Homo sapiens: one gene and its partner. The protein of the gene in region 2 purifies or fractionates together with the protein of the main gene of each other region. This does not show direct contact. Each region holds a gene or a part of one and is shown on either strand. Other genes may lie near its edges.

Region 1 (3,827 bases), on a different chromosome or scaffold from region 2:
AGGAGTAGATTAAGGGAGAACTAAATAAGTTAAAGCCCTAGGGTACAAAAGAGAAAAATTTGGTAGAACAGAAACTATTATAAGGGCAACAGCTCTGAAATATTATTTACTAAACTATTATGTACTACACTTTTCTTCTTTTAAAGATGGGGTCCTGGCCAGGCGCAGTGGCTCACGCCTGTAATCCCAGCACTCTGGGAGGCTGAAGCAGGCAGACACTTGAGGTCAGGAGTTCAAGACCAGCCTGGCCAACATGGTGAAACCCTGTCTCTACAAAAATACAAAAATAAGCAGGGTGTGGTGGCGCACACCTATAATCTTAGCTACTCGGGAGGCTGAGGCAGGAGAATTGCTTGAACCCGGGAGCAGAGGTTGCAGGGAGTCGAGATTGCACCACTGCACTCCAGCCTGGGTGACAGAGTGAGTGAGACTCTGTCTCAAAAAAAAAAAAAAAAAAAAAAAAAAATACTGGGTCTCATCTCGTCACCCAGACTGGAGTGCAGTGGTGCACTCATAGTTCACTGCAGCCTCAAACTCCTGGGCTACAGCAACTGTTTATTATATTTTAAATTCCTTGAAGAGAGAAACTATATTTAATTCATCTCCAATTTGAAGTTACATATTGGCACACTGTTGACCTGAATTATAATTCTCCACAAGTCAAGGAGTGTAGAGTTACCAATTTTTTATATTGCGATTATCACCATATACAAAGACACAGCTTCTTCTAAAAGTTAAAAGAAGAAATTTACCTGGGATAAAAATCAAAGAATTTTAGAGTGTGAAGAACATTAAATATTAATTATATCTTTTGGCAATGAAAATTGAGACTGTAAAAGAACTATTTATTATAGGAAATAGTGACTCAAATGAAAAAATATGACCAACATGAATAACAGAAATACACCGGAAGTTATGATAGATCACAGAACTAGACAAATATTAGCTCTTTGTGCTCAAATTATAAATTAAACTAAATAACACATCTTACACCTACAATATATTACTTTTTTATACTCAGAGCACATTACTGACAAAAACCAACTGTATATAAAATACAAATCACTTAAAAAAAAACATACCCATTATTGTATTTAAAAACGGCCGACTTGCAAAACTATAACATACTCAAATAAATCTATAATTATACTCTAGAAAGCTAATGAAATTTAGAGAAATACAAATTTCTCAAGTATGTTTACAGACTTAAAACCCTAAAGTCAGTCAAAATTGTATCTATTGTATCTATAATATTAACAATCTCTAGAGGTAGAAGTATTAATATTCTTAGAAAGCCATATTAGCAATAAATAACCTTAGCTATAACAATTATGGGCTTAAAGTATTTCCCCATTTTAAACTGATTTTTCACAATCATGAGTATATGAATACTTATCAGTAAGAAAAAAATATAAACAGTACAACCAGAAGCACATTAATTATTCAAATAAACAATCTCATCTTGCCCTTGTGGTTATGTTTCTTTAGTGGTGCTGAAAATAATAACTTTTGGTTCCATTAAGGAACTATGATTTTTTTGCACTATGAATTCTAAAGTATCCTGGAACAAAATTATTAAGTAAAACAAAGCATCAAAGATTACTTTAACAAGTTTATAGAATCAGCAGCTTAAGATAAACATGAAAAAAAACTTACAAATAAGGTAGTAAAATATGTCATCAAATAATATATACAAGTAATTTTTGGCACTGTGTTGGATAGATTCAGGAGCTAGTAAGGAGTTATATTGTTCCAGACTGCTAGTTATGTACTACTCTTATATACTATGCACAGGAAACATGGGAAAGTGTTTATATATCTGTTATTACATATAATTATACCTCTGTTACTGCCTCTGGCTTCAAAGGTCACCTCTTTTCTTCATTTTTCAAGATGGCCTCCATCTTCCACCGTTGCCTGCTATCTATACCCTAACAGTCTCAATACTCTGACTAAACTTAACACTGACAACTACCTAGGGGGAAAAAAACCAGAAAATCATATACTCTTTGTAATACTAAACCAAATATTCTGGTGTCAAAAAAGGAAAAAATATAGATGCATAGTTTTTAATTTGTCTTTTGTGCTTCAGAGCTTTGAGGTTACTTCTGAGATGGAAAGACTTAAGTCGCCTAAAAATAATGGATTGTACAAGTAAAAAAAATTCTAAATCTAATTCCTTTTTATTGTTTTTTTTAATAGAATTCTTTTTTATTAGATAGAAACAGGCTTTAGAAAACTAACAATAGCCCAGGTGCAGTGGCTTATGCTTGTAATCCCAGCACTTTTGAGAGGCCAAGGCAGGTGGATTGCTTGTGTCCAGGAGTTTGAGACCAGCCTGGGCTACATGGCAAAGCCCCATCTCTACAAAAAAAATACAAAAATTGGCCAGGTGTGGTGGTTTGCATCTGTAGTCCCAGCTACTTGGGAGGCTGACGTGGGAGGAGCATTTGAGCTTGGGGGGTCAAGGCTGCAGTGGAGCACCCACTGCACTCCAGACTGGGTGACAGAGAGACCTGTCTCAAAAACAAAACAAAACAAAACAGAAAAGTAACAATAAAACAAGTTATAAGAATTAGACCCCAGTCTTTTTTTTATTGTCATTACTTAGGGAGTTAAAGTAGAGAAATAATAGATACAAGCAACACTGGTCATTGAAATGTCACATATACCTTGCTCTCATAAATGAAAAAAATGACATTCTAATTTATGATATCTTTTCCTTTTTTAGTTTATTTTTATTTTTTTGAGACAGGGTTTTCCTGTAGCCCAGGCTGAGGTGCAGTGATGCGACCACAGCTCACAGCAGCCTAGACCTCCCCGGCTCAAGCGACCCTCTCACCTCAGCCTCCTGAGTACCTGGGACCGCAAGTGTGCGCCACCATGCTGGGCTAATTTTTTGTATTTTTGGTAGAAACAGGGTTTCACTATGTTGCCCAGGCTGGTCTCGAACTCCTGGCCTCACAGAATCTGCCCACCTTGGCCTCCCAAAGTGTTGGGCTTACAGGTTCGTGAGCCACCACACCTGGCATCAGTTTCTTTTGAACATAATTATGATCCATATTGCCAAAGCCAAATAAACTTTGGTAAACCAATAAAAACAAGCTTCAAAACTGAGGACAAGATGCTTGATGGTGATAAGATATCTCATCCAAGAGATTCTTGGCAAAAATAAGAAGTAAAAGGAAGTCATAGATAAGTGAGAAGTAATAATGAACAAGAAAGAGCACTAAATGTTTAATAATGGCAAAGGGGACAGAGGCAAATTATAAGATTTAAGAAATTCTACAAAGTTCTTAAATGCAAAGCCCATGAAAAGTGGTTTCTAATTCTACTGTCAAAACAGTAACCAAAACATTACTCTAATATCAGCTGAGTGTAGTCTCCCAAAACCTTCCTACTTCCTTCTTATGCATTTCCTATTATTTCTATGCATTCAAAGACAACTCTTTCAAACAGAGGATACATTTTTGTTTCCTGGTCATAAGTATATCACTGCATTTCTTGTTTTTTTTTTTTTTTTTGAGATGGAGTTTCGCTCTTGTCACCCAGGCTGGAGTGCAATGGCGCGATCTCGGCTCACTGCAACCTCTGCCTCCCGGGTTCAACCGATTCTCCTGTCTCAGCCTCCTGAGTAGCTGGGATTATAGGCACTCGCCACCATGCCTGGCTAATTTTTTGTATTTTTAGTAGAGATGAGGTTTCACCATGTTGGGCAGGCTAGTCTCAAACTCCTGACCTCAGGTGATCCGCCCACCTCAGCCTGCCAAAGTGCTGGGTGGGATTACAGGCTTAAGCCACCACGCCCCGCCGATCACTGCATTTCC
Region 2 (3,827 bases):
TGCCCAGGCTGGAGTGCAATGGCGCGATTTCGGCTCACTGCAACCACTGCCTCCTAGGTTGAAGCAATTCTGCTGCCTCAGCCTCCCAAGTAGCTGGGATTACAGGCATGCACCACCATGCCCGGCTAATTTTGTATTTTTAGTAGAGATGGGGTTTCACCATGTTGGTCAGGCTGGTCTTAAACTCCTGACCTCAAGTGATCCACCTGCCTTGGCCTCCCAAAGTGCTGAGATTACAGGCATGAGCCACTGCACCCAGCCCAATGTGGTCATTTTAACTTATTTTTATAGATTATTGGCCATATGATTAGTCATTTCTTGACATCCTCTAACTTAAAAAATTCAAATTTAAAATAATTTAATCAAAATGTTAAATCATTTTAAATCATTTGGTTACTTGGGGATAGATATCTTAGGGATAGGACCCAAGTCTAAACACAATATTCATTTGTTTCATACACACCTTATTCACATAGCCTGAAGATAATTTTATACAATAGTTTTAATTTTTGTATGAAACAAAAATCACTTGATAAAGCATTCTGATTACTTTTTAAAAATTGACTTTGAGCTAAATGATATCAATAAATGACTAAGGATATAGCCAATAATCTTTAAAATCATTTATGATTCATTTAGTTCTATAATTTTACCAAGGAATTAAAGACATACAAATTCAGCTATCAATACTTTTAGATAAAAACTTGACTAACTCACAGTGTTTACACAATTAGCTCACATTCAGCTAAAGAAAATATCCTTCTTGAGACAGTAGATTCATTTTTCCCACTTATATAAACATAAGTTATCCTACATACCATTTCTGGAATGGGTACCTCCAGTTGTGTACCAGAAGGTGCCTGAATGGCCAAAAGTGTATCACCTGGTCAAAAATAAATATAAAAAGTTACATAAAATACTGTTGATCATGGAATACAGTGGCAAGAATGTGGGCTCTGGAATCAGAGTGTTTGGTTCAATCCCAAACTAGGTGACCTTGAGCTTTGATTTTCAATTCTATAAAATGGGGGATACACAACCTACTGCATAGATTTATTTTGAGGATTAAATAAGATAATACATGTATTAGTATTATACATGGGTTAGCTGTATGATTCTCATTAACAAATTCAGCTCAAGTTGATTTTGCTTTGACTAAGACTCCTGTAAAGTCTGAGATTCTTAAGACCATTTAGCCTCAAATAACACTGTTCATTGGACTGAGGATAGTGGAGATTAGGTATGAGACACTGAAATGTTGAGCTTAAATGATTTTATTATTTTTGAAGCCAAATTCTACAACAAATCTCTGTTGAGTTGCAGATTAACAGAAGTCTCAGCAAACTTCCTTAAAAAACTCAGGAAATACAGTGGTAAAATAGAACAATAGTCCTATACTTATTTCCAACATAGTCTTACATAGAAAGTCAGATTCCACTTGATGAGGTACTTGGCAGAATCTTTTTAAATAGGTGGATAATACACATAAATTTAAATATGCACAATTTCATTTTACTTGTGCTATAATTTTGGGAACACACGTCCCCCCATTTTAGTTATATTAATAATTATAATTATTAACATGATATTGTTATTTTAAGGAGAAAACACAGGGGCAGCAAATTGCATAGGAATAGGTTTCCTGGTTATAAGATGGATTCACCTAATTCTTTCCTTATGGTTTCTTTGAGTTTCATTTGAGACCAGCATACTTGCATATAGTTTGATAAACAATGCTGATGAGAACCATGTTCTAGTTCAAGTTTGGTCACTAACTCTGTGACTGTGTGACAATGAAAGTTGCTTAATCCCGCTCTGATTTAGCTTGCCCTCTGTCCCTGTCCCCTTCCCCTTCCACACACAGTTGATCCCTACCAGTGGAGCTAATGAACTGAATGCTGTGAAAAGCAGCTATTCTCATGAAAACAGAAACAAAAGCAGTCTATCAATACACGGCATGGTGGAGTGAGACACAATGCCCACAACTTCTGAAAATAATGACAGGATGAGGACACAGGGAATTCTGAATCACCCTCCACTAAATAGGTTGAGAGGAAGAATGCAAGGAAAAGTCTAATGGTACTTACCATTAAAGCAATTACAGATGTCTTCATGAGTTACATAGGAAAATGTACTGTCATAGGAGTTAAGGAACGACATTTATATCAAGCCGTAGGCATTTAAATTAAGGTAATACATCTGAAGGTCAAAATAACTAAATGACCATATGCACAGAGGGACTGCCACACATGGACAGACAAAAAAAGAAGTCTAGTCTAGAAAGGTAAAGACAAAGGAGTTCCCATCCTTTGCTCTTAGAAGAAGCCATTCTGATTTTTGTGACATTTGAGGACCCTTAGGAGAGAGATGGAAAGCAGTGCACATTCTTCATGGAGGCAAAGGTTTCTGGGGGAAGGGAATGGATGGGGAAAAGGAGGCCATCAGCAACCATATCAGCTTCCACATCAGGAATTTTCTGTGATCGTTGTTTTTTGTTCTTGTATTAAATGGTCAGGTATGGCCACAAGAGGACACAGAGGATTAAAGAAAGGCTCAGAAAAACAAAGTATTATACTCATAGGTCCTAGTGACGGGAGGCAAGGCAGGCTACTCAGGGCCACATGGTTAAGACAACAAGGTGGTCAGGAGGCAGAAGACAGGAGCAAGGGGAAAGCATTAGCCCAGAGCTTTTATTGGGGTTTCCTTGGGAAAAGAAATGCAGGGTGGCTGGGCATGGTGGCTCACGCCACCCAGCACTTTGGGAGGCCGAGGCAGGTGGATCACTTGAGGTCAGGAGTTCAAGACCAGCCTGACCATATGCACAGAGGGGCTGCCACACATGGACAGATAAAAAAAGAAGTCTAGTCTAGAGATGGTGAAACCCATCTCTACTAAAATACAAAACTTAGCAGGGCATGGTGGTGAGCACCTGTAATCACAGCTACTCTGGAGGCTGAGGCAGAAGAATTGCTTAAACCCGGGGGGTGGAGGTTGCAGTGAGCCAAGATCGCATCACTGCACTCCAGCCTGGGCAACAGAGCGACTCCATCTCAGGAAAAAAAAAAAAGCAGGGTGGGGAGAACACTACGATTAGCTAGTCTGGATAATTTTGTTTTGTTTTATTTTGAGACGGAGTTTGCTCTATCGCCCAAGCTGAAGTGCAGTAGTGTGATCTTGGCTCACTGCAGCTTCTGCCTCCTGGGTTCAAGCAATTCTCCTATGGCCTCCCTGGTAGCTGGGATTACAGATGCACATTGCCATGCCCAGCTAGTTTTTGTACTTTTAGTACGGACAGGGTTTCACCCTGTTGGCCAGGCTGGTCTCAAACTCCTGACCTCAGGTGATCCGCCAACCTTGGCTTCCCAAAGTGCTGGGATTACAGGCGTGAGCCACTGCATTTGGCCTAGTTTGGATAATTTTGGTGGGCTCTAAGCTATGCAGGTAGTCCCCCAGTTGTCTGGTACCTGACCCTGGGATGATTAAGGCAGAGGAATATTGCCACCTGGGGTGTATGGACTGGAGAGAGGAGGTCTGGACCTTGACTGGTTAGTTTATATATCAAAGGGATGCTCCTGGCTGAGCCCATGCTGTTTCTTTTTTTTTAATTTTATTATTATTATACTTTAAGTTTTAGGGTACATGTGCACAACGTGCAGGTTTGTTACATATGTATACATGTGCCATGTTGGCGTGCTGCACCCAATAACTCGTCATTTAGCATTAGGTATATCTCATAATGCTCTCCCTCCCCCCTCCCCCCACCCCACAACAGTCCCTGGTGTGTGATGTTCCCCTTCCTGTGTCCATGTGTTCTCATTGTTCAATTC

The links.
Region 1: the proteins of E2F5 (region 2) and LIN54 purify together in Homo sapiens (co-immunoprecipitation; one large-scale study listed by IntAct). This does not show direct contact.

What each region holds. Positions count from the first base shown.
Region 1 is NC_000004.12:82,979,501-82,983,327, forward strand, and holds part of LIN54 (protein lin-54 homolog), read right to left. Parts: intron 1-3,827. UniProt on the Homo sapiens protein: Component of the DREAM complex, a multiprotein complex that can both act as a transcription activator or repressor depending on the context. In G0 phase, the complex binds to more than 800 promoters and is required for repression of E2F target genes.
Region 2 is NC_000008.11:85,204,481-85,208,307, reverse strand, and holds part of E2F5 (transcription factor E2F5), read right to left. Parts: intron 2,132-3,827; coding exon 2,088-2,131; intron 884-2,087; coding exon 819-883; intron 1-818.